3 linked regions of the Homo sapiens genome follow. The protein of the gene in region 1 interacts with the protein of each later gene in a pairwise test. Each region holds a gene or a part of one and is shown in the gene's direction. Other genes may lie near its edges. The genes, in order: ABHD8, FNDC3B and NLRP3.

The links.
Region 2: the proteins of ABHD8 (region 1) and FNDC3B interact in binary tests that used the Homo sapiens proteins (3 or more experiments, as listed by UniProt).
Region 3: the proteins of ABHD8 (region 1) and NLRP3 come close enough for resonance energy transfer, tested with the Homo sapiens proteins (one study listed by BioGRID).

Annotation. Positions count from the first base shown.
Region 1 is NC_000019.10:17,293,375-17,300,480, reverse strand, and holds part of ABHD8 (protein ABHD8), read left to right. Parts: intron 1-2,103; exon of another isoform or gene 2,104-2,169; intron 2,170-5,635; coding exon 5,636-5,806; intron 5,807-5,976; coding exon 5,977-6,193; intron 6,194-7,106. UniProt on the Homo sapiens protein: Negatively regulates NLRP3-driven inflammation. Promotes NLRP3 degradation through the chaperone-mediated autophagy (CMA) pathway, hence attenuating inflammasome activation and IL1B secretion.
Region 2 is NC_000003.12:172,245,548-172,252,653, forward strand, and holds part of FNDC3B (fibronectin type III domain-containing protein 3B), read left to right. Parts: intron 1-1,985; coding exon 1,986-2,229; intron 2,230-5,712; coding exon 5,713-5,994; intron 5,995-7,106. UniProt on the Homo sapiens protein: May be a positive regulator of adipogenesis.
Region 3 is NC_000001.11:247,411,221-247,419,240, forward strand, and holds the start of NLRP3 (NACHT, LRR and PYD domains-containing protein 3), read left to right. Parts: upstream 1-4,952; 5' UTR 4,953-4,973; exon of another isoform or gene 4,974-5,095; intron 5,096-5,192; exon of another isoform or gene 5,193-5,826; intron 5,827-6,832; 5' UTR 6,833-7,574; coding exon of another isoform or gene 7,575-7,580; coding exon 7,581-7,857; intron 7,858-8,020. UniProt on the Homo sapiens protein: Sensor component of the NLRP3 inflammasome, which mediates inflammasome activation in response to defects in membrane integrity, leading to secretion of inflammatory cytokines IL1B and IL18 and pyroptosis.

The DNA of each region.
Region 1 (7,106 bases):
AATCCCAGTGCTTTCGGGGGCCAAGGCGGGAGGATATCTTGAGGCAAGGAGTTTGAGACCAGCCTGGGCAACATAGGGAGAACCCCCTAGCTCTACAAAAAGTACAAACATTAGCTAGGTGAGGAGGTGCACGCATATAGTTCCACCTACTTAAGGGCTGAGGCAGGAGATTGCTTGAGTCTGGGAGGTCGAGGCTGCAGTGAACTGTGATCACACCACTGCACTCCAGCCTGGGCAGCATGGCAAGAACCTGTCGCTCTTTAAAAAAGAAAAAAAAATCCGGGCGCGGTGGCTCACGCCTGTAATCCCAGCACTTTGGGAGGCTGAGGCGGGCGGATCACGAGGTCAGAAGATTGAGACCATCCTGGCTAACACGGTGAAACCCTGTCTCTACTAAAAATACAAAAAATTAGCTGGGTGTGGTGGTGGGCACCTATAGTCCCAGCTACTCGGGAGGCTGAGGCAGGAGAATGGCATGAGCACGGGAGACGGAGCTTGCAGTGAGCCAAGATCATATTGTGCCACTGCACTCCAGCCTGGGCGACAGAAGGAGACTCCGTCATGAAAAAAAAAAAAGGGGCCACCACGCGCGGTGGTGCACATTTGTAATCCCAGCACTTTGTGGATGGATCATTGGAGATGAGTTTGGACAACATGGCAAAACCTTATCTCCTAAAACAAAACAAAGCAAACAAAAATCCTAATTTTTCTCCTTGAAAAAAATCCCATTTTTCAATTTAATTTTTACATTTTTAAAATTTTTTTTTCTTTTAAATAGAGATGGCATCTCACTATGTTGCCCAAGATGTTCTTTAACTACTGGGCTCAAGTGATCCTTGCACCTCAGCCTCCCAAAGTGCTAGGACTACAGGTGTGAGTCATTGTGCTCAGCCTTAATTTTTTTTTTTTTTTTTTTTTTTGAGATGGAGTCTCACTCTGTCCCCCAGGCTGGAGTGCAGTGGCGTGATCCTGGCTCACTGCAAGCTCCACCTCCCAGGTTCATGCCATTCTCCTGCCTCAGCCTCCCTAGTAGCTGGGACTACAGGCACCCGCTACCATGCCTGGCTAATTTTTTGTCTTTTTAGTACAGACGGGGTTTCACCGTGTTAGCCAGGATGGTCTCGATCTCCTGACCTCGTGATTCGCCCTCCTCGGCCTCCCAAAGCGCTGGGATTACAGGCGTGAGCCAACGCACCAGGCCAATTTTCAAGTTCAAAAAAAAATTATATAGAGAATGGGGGGGGGGTCTCATTATGTTGCCCAGGCTGGTCTTGAACTCCTGGGCTCAAGCCATCCTCCCTCCTTGGCCTCCCGATGTGGTGGGGTAACAGGCATGAGCCGCTATACCAGGCTGAAAACTCCCATTAGCATATGTAATCAGACAGGGATTTCCGTCATCACTGATATTGTTTCACATTGTTCTAAAGCAGTGTTGCTCAGGCCAGGTGCAGTGGCTTACGCCTGTAATCCTAGCACTTTAGGAAGCCAAAGCAGGCAGATCACTTGAGGTCAGGAGTTCAACACCAGTTTGGCCAACATGGTGAAACCCCATCTCTACTAAAAGTACAAAAAATTAACCAGGCATGATGGTGTGTGCCTGTAATCCCAGCTACTCGGGGGTGTGAGGCAGGAGAATCACTTGAACCTGGGAGGCAGAGGTTGCAGTGAGCCAAGATCACACCACTGCACTCCAGCCTGAGCAACAGAGTGAGACTCTGCCCAAAAAAAAAAAAAAAAAAAAAAAAGCAGTGTTGTTCAATCCCAGCACTATCGTGTTTGGCCAGGTTATTTTTTTTCTGTGAGGGGCTATAGGATGTTTAGTAGCATCCCTGGCTTCTGCCCACTGGATGCAACTACACAATCTAGTGTTGATCATGACAGTCAAAAATGTCTTCAGTAGTTGCCAAGCGTGCCCTGGTGGGCAGAATTACCCCCAGCTGAGAACCACTGCCTTAGACTAAGTTAAAAAATCAACTGCCCTGGAGAACACTGTGCATTCAGGAAGCGCTCATCGGAATCCTGTAAATTCTAGGCATTTACAAAGGCATGGGTTACTGTAATTCACTCCTGCTTAAAGGGCAGGTAATACAACCTAAAACTTACCAAGAACCCCTCCATGGAAGGCTTGGTCCCCAGGGCTTGACCACTACCAAGTGGCCTCATTCTCTCCTTTATCCAGGAAGAAAGGCAAGATTGAACAGCCAGGCAAGTTGAGCACCACTGTTTTAGAGATTCTAGCCTATGCAATTAGACAAGAAAAAAAGGCCAGGCGTGGTGGCTCACACCTGTAATCCCAGCAATTTGGGAGGCCGAGGCGGGCGGATCAGGAGGTCAGGAGATCAAGACCATCCTGGCTAACACGGTGAAACCCCGTCTCTACTAAAAAATACAAAAAAAAATTAGCCAGGCATGGTGGCAGGCGCCTGTAGTCCCAGCTACTCAGGAGGCTGAGGCAGGAGAATGGCGTGCACCCAGGAGGTGGAGCTTGCAGTGAGCCGAGATTGTGCCACTGCACTCCAGCCTGGGTGACAGAGTGAGACTCCATCTCAAAAAAAAAAAAAAAGAAAAAAGAAAAATAAATAAGTGGCCAGGTGTGGTGGCTTACACCTATAATCCCAACACTTTGGGAAGCTGAGGTGGGAGGACTGCTATAGCTGAGGAGTTCAAGACCAACCTGGGCAACATAAGCAAGATCTCATCTCTACAAAAAACTAAAAAGTAAAAAAAAAAAAAAAAGAAAAGAAAACAAAGAAGTTACATAAGTATCTAAAAGAAAGGAATCTAGACTGAGAGGTAACAGCTCTTATTTGTTTATATTTCTTTATATAACATACTCAAAAGTTGATGCTTATGAGAAATGATTCCTCTAATTAAATGAGCACCCACCTGCTGGGCACAGTGGTTCACACCTGTAATCCCAGAACTTTTGGAGGCCGAGGCAGGCGGATCACAAGGTCAGGAGTTCAAGACCAGCCTGGCCAAAATGGTGAAACCCCGTCTCTAATAAAAATACAAAAAGTAGCTGGGTATGGTTGCAGGTGCCTATAATCCCAGCTACTTGGGAGGCTGAGGCAGGATAATCATTCGAACCCATGAGGTGGGGGTTGCAGTGAGCCGAGATCGCACCATTGCACTCCAGCCTGAGTGACAGAGCAAGACTCTGTCTCGAGAAAAAAACAAAAAAACAAAAAAAACACCCACCTACAATAGTTCCCATGACCCCATAACAGTGCTATTAGGTCAGCACATTTACAACTTCAGGAATGTGGAGGCTGAAGCTCAGAGAGGTGAAGCAACCTGCCCAAAGGCATACAGGAAGTCCCTGACACAATCAGGTCTGCCTGACTCCTGTCTGTATCCTTTCCTCATTACAGCAGGGGCTGGCAAACATTTCCTTAAAGGATCGGATAGCGAATATTTTAGGTTTGCAGGCCATACAGTCACTGTTGGAACTTCTGATAAAACTTTATTTAGGAAACATTTTTTGGCCAGGCACGGTGGCTCACGCCTCTAATCCCAGCACTTTGGGAGGCCAAGGTGGGCAGATCACCTGAGGTCGGGAGTTCAAGACCAGCCTGACTAACACGGTGAAACCCCGTCTCTACTAAAAATACAAAAATTAGCCGGGCATAATGGCAGATGCCTGTAATCCCAGCTACTCGGGAGGCTGAGACAGGAGAATCACTTGAACCCGGGAGGCGGAGGTTGCAGTGAGCCGAGATCGCGCCACTGTGCTCCAGCGTGGGCAACAGAGCAGGACTCCATCTCAAAAAAAAAAAAAAAAACCTTATTTAGGAAACATTTTTCAAATCTCCAAAAGTGTAAACTGTATTTAAAAAAGCAAATGACTAGCCCACAGGCCGTACATAGTTTGTTGACCCCTGCTTTTGTAGGAATGAGGAGCTCAGCTTTGGGGGCTTCTCAGGCCTTCCATCTTGTATAAGGAAGACAGATATGTCATGCCCAGAGGCAGGTGGCAGAACATCCTGAAAGGGAAGGGATAGTAGGAAACAGTGACCTCCCCTGGGCAGCCGGAAGCATTTGTTTAATCAGATTGCTTTCCTACCACTTGCTGATGAGTAATTCTTACCGCTTTTGGGTCATGGTGGCTTGAAGAATCTGATGAGGGCCGGGCACAGTGGCTCATATCTATAATCTTAACACTTTGGAAGGCCAAGGTGGAAGGATCACTTGAGCCCAGAAGTTCAAGACCAGCCTGGGCAACATAGTGAGACCCCCATCTCTACAAAAATTTTAAACAATTAAAATAAAAAGTCTGGTGAAACTTCTGGATCCAGATTCTCTCTTCAAAATAAGTTCCATCCTCAACACTCAAACTCACACTTTCACGGTATTTGAGAGGCCGCACTCATCCCTCACCCCTTCAGGTGTCCATGGACCCCAGGGGAAGAATCTTGGCTTCCAAGGACCTGCCTTCTGGGTAGGGGGAGGACATGAACCCCCTCACCAGGCCGGGTGTCACGGCTCACGCCTATAATCCCAGCACTTTGGGAGGTTAAGGCCAGAGGATCACTTGAGCCCAGGAGTTCAAGACCAGCCTGGGCAACATAAGGAGACCCTGTCTTTATAAAAAAATTTTTAAAAATTAGCTGAGCATGGTGGCACATGCCTGTAGTCCCAGCTATTCAGAAGGCTGAGGTGGGAGGATCTCTTGAGCCCAGGAAGTCAAGGCTGCAGGGAGCTATGATTACGCCACCGCACCACTCCAGCCTAGGCGACAGCGAAACCTTGTCTCAAAAACAAAAACAAAACAGGCCAGCCCAGTGGCTCATGCCTGTAATCCCCGCACTTTGGGAAGCCAAGGTGGGTGGATCACTTGAGGTCAGGAGTTCTCGACCAGCCTGAGCAACATGCTGAAACCCTGTGTCTACTAAAAAATACAAAAATTAGCCAGGTGTGGTGGTGCATGCCTGTACTCCCAGCTACTCGGGAGGCTGAGGAAGGAGAATCAGTTGAACCCAGGAGGCAGAGGTTGCAGTGAGCTGAGATTGCATCACTGTACTCCAACCTGGGCAACAGAATGAGACTCCATCTCAAAAACAAAAACAAACCAGGCCAGGCGCAGTGGCTCAGGCCTGTAATCCCAGCACTTTGGGAGGCCGAGGCGGATGGATCACTTGAGGTCAGGAATTTGAGACCAGCCCGACCAACATGGTGAAACCCCATCTCTACTAAAAATACAAAAAATTAGCCGGGCGCGGTGGCGGGCGCCTGTAGTCCCAGCTACTCGGGAGGCTGAGGCAGGAGAATGGCGTGAACCCGGGAAGCGGAGCTTGCAGTGAGCCGAGATTGCGCCACTGCAGTCCGCAGTCCGGCCTGGGCGACAGAGCGAGACTCCGTCTCAAAAAAAAAAAAAAAAAAAAAAAAAATTACCTGGGTGTGGTGGTGTGCGCCTGCAATCTCAGCTACTCGGGAGACTGAGGCAGGAGAATCGCTTGAACCTGGGAGGCAGAGGTTGCAGTGAGCCAAGATGGAGCCACTGCATTCCAGCCTGGGGGACAGAGTAAAACTGTCTCAAACAAAAACAAAAACAAAGCAAAACAAAATGGTCACTGCTTGTATCCTGCTGACCGCCTCCCTTCAATCCTCCTATCACCCCACCCGTTCCGGGCAGTGTCTCTTTCTGCACATTCCTGGCACATGAGTACCCAGACCTAGTGCACAAGGTGATCATGATCAATGGCGGGGGCCCTACGGCGCTGGAGCCCAGCTTCTGCTCAATCTTCAACATGCCCACCTGCGTCCTGCACTGCTTGTCGCCCTGCCTGGCCTGGAGCTTCCTCAAGTGAGTGTCCCCACCCCAAAGACCGTGATCCTGGCCCTGGCGAACCCAGGCATCTGCTCGAGTTGGATGGGAGGGGGGACTGTACCGCTGGGACTAGGGCTGGCATCGGGGGCACCCCACGGCAGTCGGGCTGGCATAAGGGGCTCTAGCGGTGCCTCCACCACCACCAGGGCCGGCTTCGCCCGCCAAGGAGCCAAGGAGAAGCAGCTGTTAAAGGAGGGCAACGCTTTCAACGTGTCATCCTTCGTACTCCGGGCCATGATGAGCGGCCAGTACTGGCCCGAGGGCGACGAGGTCTACCACGCCGAGCTCACCGTGCCCGTCCTGCTTGTCCACGGCATGCACGATAAGTTTGTGCCGGTGGAGGAAGACCAGCGCATGGCCGAGGTAGAGGCGGGCACCTGGGGCGCCACAGCTACAAATCCCCAGGGTGCTGCCCGGGAGGGGCGTGGCCTCTGCGGGGGGCGTGGTAGCGCTTGGTGGGCGTGCTTTCTTCCCGAGGGGGCGTGGCTGCCGGGTGGGCGTGGCCTCTAGTTGCTGTATCTTGTTCTGACCCCAGGCAAACAGGAGCATTAGGTCTAGCATCAGAAGTAGAATCTAGAAAGCAGGGCTGCCCTGGACAGGTGTTAGCAATTACGCACTGTCCCCACCGCTGTAAGAAGGCTCTCCTCACAGCGGAGGATTTGTATGAGACCGGTGACCTATATAATTCTAGAAGACCGGCACCAGGGGATCTTTAGATTAGAAACTCTAATTAGCGAGTTCAGATTAGAAAGGGTCTGGGGATCCTTAGCACTTAGAATAGCCCTGGATACTAGCCCGGCGAGGTGGTTCACGCCAATAATCGCTGCAACTTGGGAGGCTGAGTGGGGCGGATCGCTTGAACCCAGGAGTTCAAGGCTGTGGTGAGCCATGCTCGCACCACTGCACTCCAGCCTGGGCGACAGAGCAAGACCCCGTTTCTTAAAGAAAAAAAAAAAAAAACAAAAACCATTAAAGTATAACTGGACTGGTGGTTCTTAACTAAGGAGGATTCTGCCCCCAAGGAACACGTGGAAATGCATGGAGACATTTTTAGGTGTCACGACTGAGGGGGAGGGGGTACTACTGGCATCTAGTGGGTGGAGGCCAGGGATGCTGCTCAACACCCTACAAATGCACAGGATAGCAGCCCCCACCCCAGCTACCCGCCCCTTCCCCGCCCACCCCCGCCCCCCCAGCAAAGAATGATCCAGCTCCTAATGTTGGTAGAGTTGAAGTTGACAAAATCCTCCTCCAGGCCGGGCGCGGTGGCTCACTC
Region 2 (7,106 bases), on another chromosome or scaffold:
AATCATGATGTATTTATACTACATGTGCTATTTATATACATGTGCTACCAAACAGCATGCAGCTCTATGTTTTAGACAAAATAGAAGAAGCTTTGATGATAATTATCAATACATGCATGAGAATTTCCAATGTCATGGTTTAAGCACCCACTTCACATACACTTGTAAATTAGCTTCCATGCATTCATAAATGGGGTTAGTGTGATTAGCTTGCCAAGGCCCAGAAGAGATTATATTTATTAAAGATCACATGAAAAGCTGTGTCCTAGGCATCTCACTAGGAATCTTAATTTTAAATAGGTAATATTATCTTATTTATGAACTATTAACACAGTAGAAACATTTATTTTGATAGATTTATTAATGAATGTAAAGATTTCTGTTTTTTTAACATAAGGATTAATGGCCGTTCATTCAATCTAAACCTATTTTGTACACTGAAATATAACATAAACATTGATAGACTTGCCAATCTGTCTTAAGCACTACTTTTAAAATATGAAGCTAAGTATAGTTTTTTGTTGTTATTAAGATGTTTTAGACATGATTAAGTCATTTTATTTTGTCCTATAATTAACCTCCTGAGGTATAATGAGAAATCCATTTCAATATAGAAGGTCAGTTTTGTGCGGTTTTTAGATTTTTTTTTTTTTGTAAAACAAAACTTCCTGTCAGAGTGTGTGCCCGATCGTGCATTTGATTAGATCAGCTGGCATGGCTTCTTGGCAGCCTGGCCCTCACTGCCAGGTTTACTCCGTGTCCACTTCCTTGCAGGGCCCTGACCTAGAGGCCATCTCTCAGCTGTCCCAGCCCTGCCAATTGTTTGAGGTCCCTGAAGCCTTTCCTGATTCTCCCATCTCACGTTATCATTCTCTGTACCCTACAACTTTACCTTTTCATCATGGTATCTGTTGTGTTAGTTATTTCTTTCATTGTGTTTCACCAAAGTTGTTTGCTCATAGGAGCTGGTAGTGTGACGCTGGCCACAGAGGCAATAAATATTGGCATTGTGCTGCCTTCGTTGCTCTACTTGGATGAATTAGAAAACATTCAGAGGAGCTGGGCACGGTCGTGCATGCCTGTAGTCCCAGCTACTTTGGAGGCTGAGGCAGGAAGATGACTTGAGGCCAGTTCAAGGCTGTAGTGTATGATGATCACACCTGCGTGTAGCCACTGCACTTCAGCCTGGGCAACAGAGTGAAATCCCATTTCTAAAAATAAATAATGAACAAAGAATTGGAAAAAGAATGGATAGAGTGTTGATTGGCTTGCTTTTCTCATAGCAGGTTGCTTTTCCAAGCATCTTCTTTCACAACACTCATCATGAGGACATCTTGGGAGCAAAAGTGTCCATACTGATTTGGGGTTACTTAAGTTTTTCTTTGGTCAGAATCCCTCATTTCATCCATATCCTCAGTCCTAGATTAAGTAATCTTAGGGCACACTTACGGCTTCTGACGTTAATGCCACCTTTGTTTCCTAAAGCCCTGATGATGATGGAACTGTGCATGTTAAAGCAGGAAAGGGGAAGAATGTTGTCAGCATATCTAGAAGCCTAGCCCTGGAAAAGTACTTAGGTGGCACAGAAAGCCTCTTTCTGGAAAACCACTGAACTGATAGTTAAATTCAAAAGTCACTCCTAGAATCAGTTTCAGCACACATTAAATTCACTCGTCTTGGATGAAGCCAGTGAAAATTTTAAGACAAAAACAAGATTTATTATCAAATACTGGTCTCTCCAAAAAGTTACATGGGATCAGAATCAGATGTCAATGAATAATTTGTTTTTGTACGTTTTTATAGTTACATGTTATTACTTCTAGAACTCATTTGACTGGTTGAACTAGAGAACCAGAATACAACATGCATTTGTTTTTTTCTATGGTGGAAGAGAAAAGTAAAATTAAAGTGGAAGTTATTAATACTATATATATTCATAGGCTGCTAATATGTACTGCGTTCTTTCCTTTTGTGTTTTTCTTTAGGTGATTGAAGATAGTACTGGAGTCCGCCGGGTGGTGGTCACACCCCAGTCTCCTGAGTGTTATCCCCCAAGCTACCCCTCAGCCATGTCTCCAACCCATCATCTCCCTCCCTATCTGACTCACCATCCACATTTTATTCATAACTCACACACGGCTTACTACCCACCTGTTACCGGACCTGGAGATATGCCGCCTCAGTTTTTTCCCCAGCATCATCTTCCCCACACAATATATGGTGAGCAAGGTGAGTAGATTTTCGTTGGCGTCAGGAGCCGTTGAAACTGATTACAGCGTTTCAATAGTTCAAGGCGGTCCTTTGTTTCTTGTGAAATAAGCATAGTAGAAAAGGATCTAGGTGGTTTGTAAGACTCATGGGGAATTCCTAGCTTCCTTTGTCCTGAATGGTGCCTTGGAAAAATTACTTTGTGGGTTTAGTTCTTTTTCTTTCTTTCAGTTTTCACAAACTCGGCCCCAACCCCCACCTTACAAGATCAAGGAGTAAGGTAGCCACCTTTTATTTTAGAAAAGTGGCAGTGTGACATCGTTCCCATGTCCTGAAAGCATGTTTGTATGTGAGAGTGGCCTGAGGTACAACTGTGGCACATCGTTTCTTTGGTATCCATATGATCTACCAGTTAAAGGGAAATTGAAAAGTGTTTTGTGCCCCATTTCCAGTGTTTGAAGATTGTGAAGTCTCAAGAACCTTTAGGTTTCCTAAAAGGCTCTATGTTGTGATGCTGGCAGAACTCAAAAATCCCCTGGCTGTTGATGTGGCCTTCCTGAACCTGCTTTTAGTTTAAGAGTAGCCATTAGTGCAGCCGCAATTTCACTGATTGTTAGGCAAATACTTACCTGGATATGAAAAGAGCCTCAGAGCTACCAACATTATATCTTTTTAAAGTTTTGACCCTGGTGTTGGTTTAGTCTAAAGGCTTTCTCTATCAAAATGGATACTAAGAAACCAGATAATTGAGGGTAAAATTAGACTTTAGCCTCTAGGACTTTGCAAAGTGATTTTCTTCTGAGTCTGACTATGAATGGAAGCATTTTACTGCTTCAGACATTTATTATGTTGGTTTAGATACATTGTAGAAGAAATGCCTGTTATACCATAGAATGTTTGAGCAAGTTATCACTTTTAAGAATTATATATATATAATTATATAATTTCTATATAATTAATTATTTATTTATAATTATATTTTTATATATATAATTATTCCCTGTTCATCTCACATTATAACTTATTCACAGAAAAAACTTTTTTGAGATGATATTTTAAGTGAAATATATCGTTGTAACTTAGGGATAGAATTTGACTGTATGTGTGTTTTGTTTATTTTTTTTTGTAGTCAAAGAAATTTGACATGATTCAAATTAATCAGGTGCTTTCACAATGTCGTATAAGGGGATGATAGCAAAACATGAAATCAATACTTTGATTTCATAGCAGCATCAATAACTTCCTATCAATTTGATCTTTTTTCCATGCGACACACCAAGAAAACATCAAGTATTGGGGATATACTATGAAAACATTTGGATAAAAACTGAAAAAATTTAGTTAGCTGTAATTTTTTTAATGTATTCAGTGCTTTGACTCAACATGCATTAAATAATTGAGTGTTTCTTAGAGCTTTCTGGCTGTATCTGAGCTCTGATGACATGAAAGGCCTTGGTGACTGACTCATTGCTTGCTGGTATATGTCTGACTTGCCTTATTTTAGCAGTCTGTTAGTAGGATGCCACATGGTTACTGTTTTGTAAATGCTGTCCTTTGCAATTTTAGGCAAGACAACAGTATGATTTAAATCGTCATTAGAGTTAAGCAAAATTGTAGTCTCTTCATTTTATGGTGTATTTGGGTCTAATTCCATTAAAATAACACAGAGCAATAATGTATGCAAATAAAAATGCCTTCATTGATTTCAAATTAAAGCAGTAAAACAAAATCCCTTCCCTTTATAAATAAGCCATTGATATATTCTTTTACCTTAGTTCTTAGTGTGCATACCTAAAAGCAATTTAAATATTAATTTTCTAAACTATAAGAGTTTTAAAAGTTTTCAACATGTCTGAAAAGATTATTACTGCCCATAGTGAATATGTTAAATCTCATGTGTAATACATCGTGGTGTTTAGAACATTTACTATCCTTCTGGTATATTTTGACATAGTTTCTTTGGATACACACTCTCTGAATAGGATTATATTTGTTTTGACACGTTCTCTAGTGCAAACTGGTTCTCTCATGAAGATTTGTTTTTTAACAAAACAACTCTTGTTTATGCTTTAGCTATGTTAACAGTAAGAAACAGTGGAGCTTTACTGTTGAGTAATTGAGACAGCAGTTTTGTTAAATTATGCAGGGTAACCATACATTTCTGTTGTGCCTGTGACAGTCCTAGTGTAGGTCTCTTGCCTTGAAGAAATTATTGATATTCCTTCCTTTTCGCTCTCAGAAGTGTTCAGATTTGGATGGTAATTTATATTGTCACTCCATAGAAGAGGTGACCCTTTTTTCTTATAAAGATGTAAGGACCCAATCTTTATGTTACGCATTGTCATTTTTACTGATACCTAAAAATAATTTTGAACTGATTTAAAAATTTAAATTTAACATAAAGTTTTCCCCTTGAGATCATAAGATTGCTTGCAGGCTTCTATTTTCTTTTGAGCCACTTTAAAATGTGCATAGTAAAGTCAGGTGACATTCTACATTTGTCTTGCCTTCTATTACTCCAAAAGAGAAGTTTGAGACCACAGCTTATTATGTTTGGCACCAGATTTCAGAGATGGCTTTTCTTTATCCTTATACTTCCTCCTTGAACATTTCCCCTGATTCTGTGAGCTTTGATTATTTTAAATGGAAATATGTCATCTCATTATCTTAGTTAAATTTGTTCAAATGTTGGCTCTTTTGTATGCCACAGAAAACTTTGACTGCAATATACTTCCCAGTAGAAATACTATTCTGTCTACAGGGATGAGTAGACTTTTAAAGTAGCTTGATTCTAAGTACATGTTTAATAGGGGTATTTTATTTGTTCTGACTTTTTCATGTATTGCAACTACTGAAAACATATTGAAAGGTAAAAATCAAACTCAGTTATAAATGCAACTAGAATATGAGCTCTTTAGGGATAACAACCTTGTCTTCAGTATTCTCTGTAATATAGGAATTTTTCTGAACACACAGTGTAGTTTTTAATGATTGATTATTCCTTGATTGGTTAGAAACAAATGGGAATGCTTTAAATGTATATCATGTATATGGCATTTTCTTTTTTCTTTTTCTTTTTGAGACAGAGTCTTGCTCTGTCGCTCAGGCTGGAGTGCAGTGATGCAATCTCAGTTCACTGCAACCTCCGCCTCCAGGGTTCAAGCGATTCTCCTGCCTCAGCCTCCTGGATAGCTGGGATTATAGGCGCCTACCACCACGCCTGGCTAATTTTTTGTATTTTTAGTAGGGATGGGGTTTCACCATGTTGCCCAGGCTAGTTTCGAACTCCCAAGCTCAGACAGTCCGCCCACCTCGGCCTCCCAAAGCGTGAGCCACTGTGCCCAGCAGTATTTTCTTAAAAAATATTTATTAGACTCTATTTAGTAATACTTTAGACTTCCTTTATACTTTAGACTTCTTCAGGAGCCAGATCATTTGACCATTTAATAATTTATTATTGAAAATGTAAACTGAGTTTGGGTTTATCATAATCATCCATTTTAGAAATTATACCATTTTATGGAATGTCAACCTACATCACCCGAGAAGACCAGTACAGCAAGCCTCCGCACAAAAAACTGAAAGACCGCCAGATCGATCGCCAGAACCGCCTCAACAGCCCTCCTTCTTCTATCTACAAAAGCAGCTGCACAACAGTATACAATGGCTATGGGAAGGGCCATAGTGGTGGAAGTGGCGGAGGCGGCAGCGGTAGTGGTCCCGGAATTAAGAAAACAGAGCGACGAGCAAGAAGCAGCCCAAAGTCGAATGATTCAGACTTGCAAGGTAATACTCAAGATGTTTGCCATAGAGTGAATTATCAAGACAGAGACATCTCAAATGATGTTTCCACATCTTTTACATGAGAATATTATTTCATGGTGGTTGGTTGTTCTGCTAAGAATATTTGAGTAGACCTTCTTTGATCTATTTCTTGGTAAGGAAATAATATTGCATTGTTTATTTTTTATTAATACTTCATGGCAGAAATACTACATTTTGGTCACAGATGCCATGCAACTTTGCACTTAATAACAAATATTTGAAAATCTTTTCATGTTAGCCTACTTCTGTTGTTTCACTCTCTGAATAGACAGATGTGGAAGAAATCCAAAGATAATTTTTCTAAAAGTGTAGGCTAGTTTAAATCTCAAAATAATTATACCTCATAAACCATACGTAATTACTTCCTTTCTGTAATGAAATCTATCATTGAATCACAGAAATATGTTTCTGTTTAGTTTTGGCATCAGTTATTGTCTCATACCACCTTTTGCCTGTGAATTAAGTGTTCAGAAACTAAGAATAAGATGGAAGAATGAGGGCCACCACATATAGGTAGAGAAACATCAACTCAGAATGGCATCTGTCTTTTTGTAGATGAATCTCTTGGGTAGATCAGTTCATTTGGAGGAAGGTTTATGTGTTTAAATGAAGTTTTGGAGGTAGTTTAGAGAGAACCTATTTTGATGCCACATAAGGAAAAACAGTGGCTATTTCTATAGGCATAGGGAAGAATGACTTAAGTGAGGCAAAAAAGGTAGCATTTGGATAAGGTAGGTGAGTTTATAGATATAAATGACTGGAAAACAAAGACTTGAACAACTTTTAAACATAAGATCAATTATTTCAAGTAGATTCCCTTTTTCATTCACAATCACATTCTCACAGACACAGTCCCAGTTTCTACCTGACTGAGATGCAGTAAGGAATCTGATTATAACACTCATTGATTATAACACTCATTGAATTTATGGATTCCTTACTGCATCTCATTCAGGTAGAAAAAGGGACTGTGTCTGTGAGAATGTGATTGTGAATGAAAAAGATGGAATATGTGTATTTTTGAGTGTCTATGGAAGAGCTTCTGACAAGAGAGAGGAAGATTAGGTAAAATG
Region 3 (8,020 bases), on another chromosome or scaffold:
TAGGGTCTCACTCTGTCACCCAGGCTGGAGTGCAGTGGCACAGTCCTAGCTCACTGCAGCCTCAATTTCCTGGGCTCAAGCGATCCTCCCACCTCAGCGTCCTGAGTAGCTGGTACTACAGGCATGCACCACCACATCCGTCTATTTTTTAATTTTTTGTGGAGATGGGGTCTCACTATGTTGCCCAGGCTGCTCTTGGCCTCCTGGCTTCAAGTGATCCTCCTGCCTCAAACCTCCCAAAGCGTTGGGATTACAGGTGTGAGCCACTGAAACTGGCCTGACCTACAATTTGAATACTACTGTACAGTTTACATTTTGCTGTCAGGTATTATTTTATTTATTTTTTCCTCTCTACAATAATGTATTATAGATCAGGTCTTGTTTTATTTGAGCCTCACAGGAAAGCTGAGGTGAGGGTCGCAGGCAAGGAGTCGGACCACAGGAGTGGTCGCAGCATTCAGCGGAGAGTGAAGCAGCGAAGGCTGGAAACCTCATCTGCTTCTCGTGAACTTCCCACTGCCCCAAGTGACTGATGTCCTTACACAATTGCAGCCAGTTCGCCAGCTGCATGAGTGACAGTGGCATAATTGACGATTGCCAAAAACGGAAACAGCCCAACTGTCCTTTGCCTAGGGAATAGAAAACCAAATTGTGGCCTATCCAACCCATGAAATACTTAACTGCAGTAAAAAGGAATAAGCTACTGATCTGAATCTCACAGGCATCATATGAAGTGAGCGGACTCGCTCACCAAAGGCTGCACACTGTTTATGTGATGCTCTGGAAAAGGTAATGCTTTAGCAGGTGGAAGAAGTGGGGCTGCGGGTGGGGACAGAGGCTGACTATGTGGCAGCACAGTGGGTGGGGACAGAGGCTGCACAGGGAGCATGTGCAGCTGATGCAGGTGCTCTGTGTGGGCTGTGGTGGTGGGTAGCTATATGCTTGTGAGCACTCACAGGCCTGTGCATGAAAAAGGTGCGAATATTTATTTTATTGTACATATTTCAGGTGTATAACATGGCAGTTTGATATACATAGTGAAATGATTGCTGCAGTCAAGCAAATTAACATGAGTTAACATAGCCACCATCTCACATAATAATCTTTCTTGTGGGTGGTAAAAACATCTAAAATCTCTCTTAGCAAATTTCAGGTTTATAATATTTTTAACTATCGTTCCCACACTGTTTGTTAGATCTCTCGGCTTATTTATCCTACATAACCGAAATTTCGTACCCTTTGACCGTCATTTTATTTCCTCTACCCCGGTAACTCTCTGTTTCTATATATTCAACTATTTTTTTTTGAGACAGGATCTCGGTCTGTCACTCAGGCTGGAGTGCAGTGGTGTGATCTCGGCTCACTGCAGCCTCGACCTCCCAGACTCAAGCAATCCTCCCACCTCAGCCTCCCAGCCTCTCAAGTAGCTGGGGTGACATGTGCACACCACTGCACCTGGCTTCCTTCCCTCCCTCCCTCCTTTCTTTTCTTTTTTTCATTTTTTTGGTAGAGGTGAAGCCTCACTATCTTGCCCAGGCTGGTCTCAAGCTCTTGGGCTCAAGTGATCCACTCACCTCAGCCTCCCAAAGTGCTGGGATTACAGGTGTGAGGCACCACTCCTGGCCTAACTTTTTTTTTTTTTTTTTTTAAGGTTCCACATATGAGTGAGATCATGTAGTGTTTGTCTTTCTGTGCCTGGCTTATTATGCTTTGTGTAAAGTCCACCGGGTTCATCTATGTTGTGGCAAATAGCAGAGTCTCAATTTTTAATACTAACTAAGATTGTATTGTGTATATATGCCCCAAACTCTTTATTTATTCATCTGTCAATAGACACTTGGGTTGTTTGCCTATCTGGACCATGGTGAATAATGCTGCTATGAACATGAGTGCACAGATGTCTTTGTGAGGTGGTGATTTTATTTCCTTTGGATACACACTCAGAAGAAGGATTGCTGGGTCATACGGTAGTTCTATTTTTAATTTCTTTAGGAACCTCCATATTGTTTTCTGCAATGGCTGCACCAATCTGCATTCCCAGCAGCAATGTGCAAGGGTTCCCTGTTCTTCACGCCCTAGCCAATGTTTGTCTCTTGTCATTTTGCTAATAGCCATCCTAACAGGTTTGAGGTGGTACCTCATTGTGGGTTTGGTTTGCATTTCCCTGATGATTAGTGATGTTGAGCACTTTTTTGTATACATGTTGACCATTTTTGTTTCTTTTTTAGAGAAATGTCTATTCAGTTCCTTTCTTCATTTTAAAAATCAGATTATTTGTTTTATGCTTTGAGTTGTGTGAATTCCTTACATATTTTGCATATTAACTACTTATCTGATATATGGCTTAAAACTATTTTCTTCCAATTTGTTGGCTACCTTTTCACTCTGTTGATTGTTTCTTTTGCTATACAGGAGCTTTTTACTTTGATGTATTCCCACTTATTTATCTTTACTTTTGTTCCTTTGCTTTTGTTGAGACATTAAAAATATCCATGCCAAGGCTAATATCAAGAAGTTTTCTCCTCTGTTTTCTATTTTTTATATTTAGTTTTTTATCTGTTTAGAGATTGGGTCTCATTCTGTTACCCAGGCTGGAATGCAGTAGTGTCATTATAGCTCACTGTAACCTCAAATTCCTGGGCTCAAGTGATCTTCTTGCCTCGGCCTCCTGAGTAGCTGGGCTACAGGTGCACAGCACCATGCCTGGCTAATTTTTTTTTTTTTAATTTTGTAGACACAAAGTCTCACTATGTTGCCCAGGCTGACTGTGAACTTCTGGCCTCAGGTGATCCTCCTGCCTCAGCCTCCCAGAGTGCTGGGATTACAGGCATGAGCCACCATGCCTGGCTTCTTCTCTATTTTCTTCTAGGAGTTTTACAGTTTTAGATCTTATGTTTAGATCTTTAATCCATTTTGAGTTGGTTTTTGTGTGTGCCAAGTTTTATTCTTTTGCGTGTGGAAATCCAGTTTCACCAAAAGCTTAATTTTTCAAAATCTTATATTTTTCTTGATTTTTTTTTCACACTTCTATAGCCAACATCTTTATTGAAGAGATTGTCCTTTCTCCATTGTGTCTTCTTGGTGACCTTGTCAAAGAATTAGTTGACTGCATATACTTGAGTTTATTTCTGTTCCACTGGTCTATGGGTCTGTTTTTATAAAGGCATGGATTTTTACTGCATATGAATTATACCTAAATTTGTCTTTTTTTTTTCCTTTTTCTGGAGAATGGGGTCTCACTATATTGCCCAGGCAGGTCTCGAACTCCTGGGCTCAAGCTATCCTCCCGCCTCTTGCCTCCCTGAGAGCTGGGATTACAGGCGTGAGCCACTGCGCCCGGCTGAATTATACCTAAATTAACTTGACTAAACAAACAAAAACAAAAAGATCCCAGGTTCAGCCAATGAGCTCCTTTTTTTTTTTTTGAAATGGAGTCTTGCTCTTGTCACCCAGGCTGGAGTGCAGTGGCACAATCTCAGCTCACTGCAGCCTCCACCTCCCAGGTTCAAGTGATTCTCTTGCCTCAGCTTCCTGAGTAGCTGGGATTACAGGTGCCCGCCACCACACCCAGCTATTTTTTTTTATATTTTTAGTAGAGATGGGGTTTCGTCATGTTGGCCAGGCTGGTCTCAAACTCCTGACCTTGTGATCTGCCTGCCTTGGCCTCTCAAAGTGCTGGGATTACAGGCATGAGCCACTGCACCCAGGCTGAGCTCCTTTCTTTTGGAGCATATTTGGTCTGCTTTCTCTCTAGCTTCAGCACCTGAAGTTTTTGCTGCTCCTGCCTCAGCTCCAGCCCCGAATGACACCTTTCACCTGGTTCATGGAGACTCAGGTCTGCTGTCATGCCCCTAAGCAGGACTAGATGCCTCTCTCATGTTGTAGAGCATTCTCTCTGCAGTTCTGTAGAAAGGTGGTAGTCATCGGAACCAACTGCTTATTCTAGCTTCTCTGTGCCAGGCTCTGTTTTAAAGGCCTCACGTTTAGCCATTCACTCAGTGTTTTCTGACAGCCTTCTAGGATAGGTACCGTTATTTGGGTTGATGTAGTGCTTGGTCAAATGCAGTATAATGAAGGGATCAAGGAGGGGGCAATTCCAAGCAAAACCACTTGTTCATCCATCCTGAGTCTAGGAGATTTGGAAGATCTAAAGAAGTAGCAGGCAATTATTGTCACCCTTTTACAGGTATGAGGCACAGACAGACCCAGTCATTTGCTGACATCCCTCCACTGAACTGGGTGCTCGTCCTTTTCACTCACCCAGAGGCTGAGCGAGTGCCTCTCACCCACCAAGCTCTGTTGAACTTGTGCCTTTGCCGGTCTGTGGTCCTGCGGCCGTCTCATGAGCTGCAGAGTAGGTCTGTGTGTGTCTCTCCTCAAGCTACTCAAGCTGAGGCTTTGTGTGCATGCCTGCCACATACCAGCCATTCCGTGAGTGTTAGTGGAACAGGTGAGTCAATGAGTCAGGGAGTAAAATTTGTGCTTTAAAAGTAGAACATGTCGGAGAGAACCTGTACTGCCTTCCAGCCATCTTGCTGTGAGAGGACAGGGCATGGACTCTGGAGTTTGAAGGCTGGGTCAGGTCATGCTCTGGATTCTTTACTCACTCGCATGGCATGTCCTTAGTTTCACTTCCCTCACTCTCAGTGGAGCCGTTGCAGCGGGCAGTGTCAGAGGCAACATCCATTTAGCACTGCCGATTTGACCCCCAGCCCCATCTCATACTGGCCTCCCACCCTGCTTCTGTGGGGTGCCTCAGAGGAGAGCAAGGTGAACCCCAGTATGGAACCGAGACACGGTTTTGACAACACTGTTGATCCCATTTGGAAAATCCAGCTATGTGATTAACCATTAGTCTCTCTGCCTCTGCTCTGATGTAAGTGGAGACCACATCCTTCCTGCCCCTTCTGGGGCTGCGACTGCTATAAATTCATTGCATTTCCTCTCTAGCTGTTCCTGAGGCTGGCATCTGGGTAAGTCCAGCTCCGCGGGGCAGTGTGGGCGACAGGACCGGGAGAGCAGTGGGGGAGATTGTGTTCAGAGGGCAGAACTTGTCCTGGTTAATGCACTAGGAATTTCTTCTGGCGTCTCCAAGGTTGTGCTTCAACAACATTTCTGGAATGTTCTTTTATCATTATTTGGGCTCTACGTGTGCAAGTTCGTGTGTGTGTATGTGGCGGGGGGAAGCGGGGAGGACAGCGGCAGCAACCATAGTTTACACCCACGACTTCAGCAGATTTGCCCAGTATCCCTCCCAGGGGAGAAGATGGATGGGATATACAGAAGGAAACAAACCTCCTTAAAGACCAAAGGGCAGCAGATTTTTGTGCTGGTGTTAGGGTGGAAGGAGCACAGAAGAAAGGCAGAATCCTGATGCAGATGGAAGGACTGATGGGGCAGGAGCTGGGAGGGTATGCGGAGCTAATAGGGCTGTCTGGAGAGCAGTCACCTCAGGATGGGCAGGAGCTGGGAGGGTATGCGGAGCTAATAGGGCTGTCTGGAGAGCAGTCACCTCAGGATGCACAGGGCTGGGTTTGCAGGGCTCAGGAGGCGAGGAGTAGATAGGCAGGAATGGAGATGGGACGGGAGAGATGAGTGAGTCTGAGGCATCTTGACATTGAACTGCAGTCACAGAAATTCCAATTTGGAGAGCTCCACCGTTTTCCAGGCTCTCTGCCTCCCTTGAGTGTTATTTATGGCTTTAGGTTGAGGTGCTTTGCCAAATAGAGTATAATCAAGGGATCAAGGAGGGAACAATTCCAAACAAAGCCAACTTGTTCATCCATCCGGACTCTAGGAGATATGGAAGATCTAAAGATACAGCAGGTGATTGCTAGTTTTTGTGGAACTCACAGTCTAGTTGGGAAGACTATGTTGGTGAATGCTGCAGTGATACACCTGTGATAAATGCTGGGGAAGTGTGTCTTTTAGTCATCTATTTTGTTGTCTTTGTCTTTGTCTGACTGAAACAAGTGATGGAAGACATGGTCTCATATCTCTGGTCAAAATCCTGGCTCTGTTCCTTCCTGGTTCTAAACCCCTCGGCAGGCTTCCTAGTCCCCCTAAGACTCAGTTTATGCATCTATAAAATGGGGCTAGGAATAGGTGCACCTCATAGAGCTCTGTGCAGGTTAGATGGGGAAAAACATCAGTGAGTGCCTAGCCTGTGGAAAGCTCTAAATTAATGTGAATTATAATGATAACAATTGCGAATTTTGCAAGGAGACATTAAAGGATGTATGTTTTTATTTATTTTATTTTATTCTATTTTATTTTTTGAGATGGAGTTTTGCTCTTATTGCCCAGGCTGGAGTGCAGTGGTGTGATCTTGGCTCATCGCAACCTCCGCCTCCTGGGTTCAAGCGATTCTCCTGCCTCAGCCTCCCGAGTAGCTGGGATTACAGGTGCCTGGTACCATGCCCGGTTAATTTTTGTATTTTTAGTAGAGACGGGATTTCTCCCTGTTGTTTGGTGAGCCTGGTCTCCAACTCCTGACCTCAGGTGATCCGCCCACCTCGGCCTCCCAAAGTGCTGGGATTACAGGGATGTATGTTTTTATTATTCTCCATTATGCACTCCCAGCTTCATCTCACTTCAATCCACTGGTTGATAGAAGTGCAGTCAAAGACTGTCCCCTCCTCTGCAAGCTTTTATGTTCTCTCTCCTCTCTCCCTAGCCACGTCCTGTTCTGTTATCAACACACTTACTCACCTCCTGGCCTTCTCCTTCTATTGTCTCTCATCCCTCTTCCCTCACAAAAACAGAAGCAAAGAGCCAGAGCCTTCAGTTTGGAGGAACTGAAAACATTCTCTTCTGCTTTCTCATTTTGTAGATGAGGAAACTGAAGTTGAGGAATAGTGAAGAGTTTGTCCAATGTCATAGCCCCGTAATCAACGGGACAAAAATTTTCTTGCTGATGGGTCAAGATGGCATCGTGAAGTGGTTGTTCACCGTAAACTGTAATACAATCCTGTTTATGGATTTGTTTGCATATTTTTCCCTCCATAGGGAAACCTTTCTTCCATGGCTCAGGACACACTCCTGGATCGAGCCAACAGGAGAACTTTCTGGTAAGCATTTGGCTAACTTTTTTTTTTTTGAGATGGAGTCTTGCTGTGTCGCCTAGGCTGGAGTGCAGTGGCGTGATCTTGGCTCACTGCAGCCTCCACTTCCCGGGTTCAATCAATTCTCCTACCTCAACTTCCTGAGTAGCTGGGATTACAGGCGCCCGCCACCACACCCGGCTCATTTTTGTACTTTTAGTAGAGACACAGTTTTGCCATGTTGGCCAGGCTGGTCTTGAATTCCTCAGCTCAGGTGATCTGCCTGCCTTGGCCTCTCAAAGTGCTGGGATTACAGGCGTGAGCCACTGTGCCCGGCCTTGGCTAACTTTTCAAAATTAAAGATTTTGACTTGTTACAGTCATGTGACATTTTTTTCTTTCTGTTTGCTGAGTTTTTGATAATTTATATCTCTCAAAGTGGAGACTTTAAAAAAGACTCATCCGTGTGCCGTGTTCACTGCCTGGTATCTTAGTGTGGACCGAAGCCTAAGGACCCTGAAAACAGCTGCAGATGAAGATGGCAAGCACCCGCTGCAAGCTGGCCAGGTACCTGGAGGACCTGGAGGATGTGGACTTGAAGAAATTTAAGATGCACTTAGAGGACTATCCTCCCCAGAAGGGCTGCATCCCCCTCCCGAGGGGTCAGACAGAGAAGGCAGACCATGTGGATCTAGCCACGCTAATGATCGACTTCAATGGGGAGGAGAAGGCGTGGGCCATGGCCGTGTGGATCTTCGCTGCGATCAACAGGAGAGACCTTTATGAGAAAGCAAAAAGAGATGAGCCGAAGTGGGGTGAGTGGAAGGAAGACTTTTAAAAAAAATTGTGGCCAAGTGCACATAGTGTACAATTTTCCATCTTTATATATATATATATATATATTTTTTTTTGAGACGGAGTTGCTCTTGTTGCCCAGGCTGGAGTGCAATGGTGAGATCTTGGCTCACTGCAACCTCC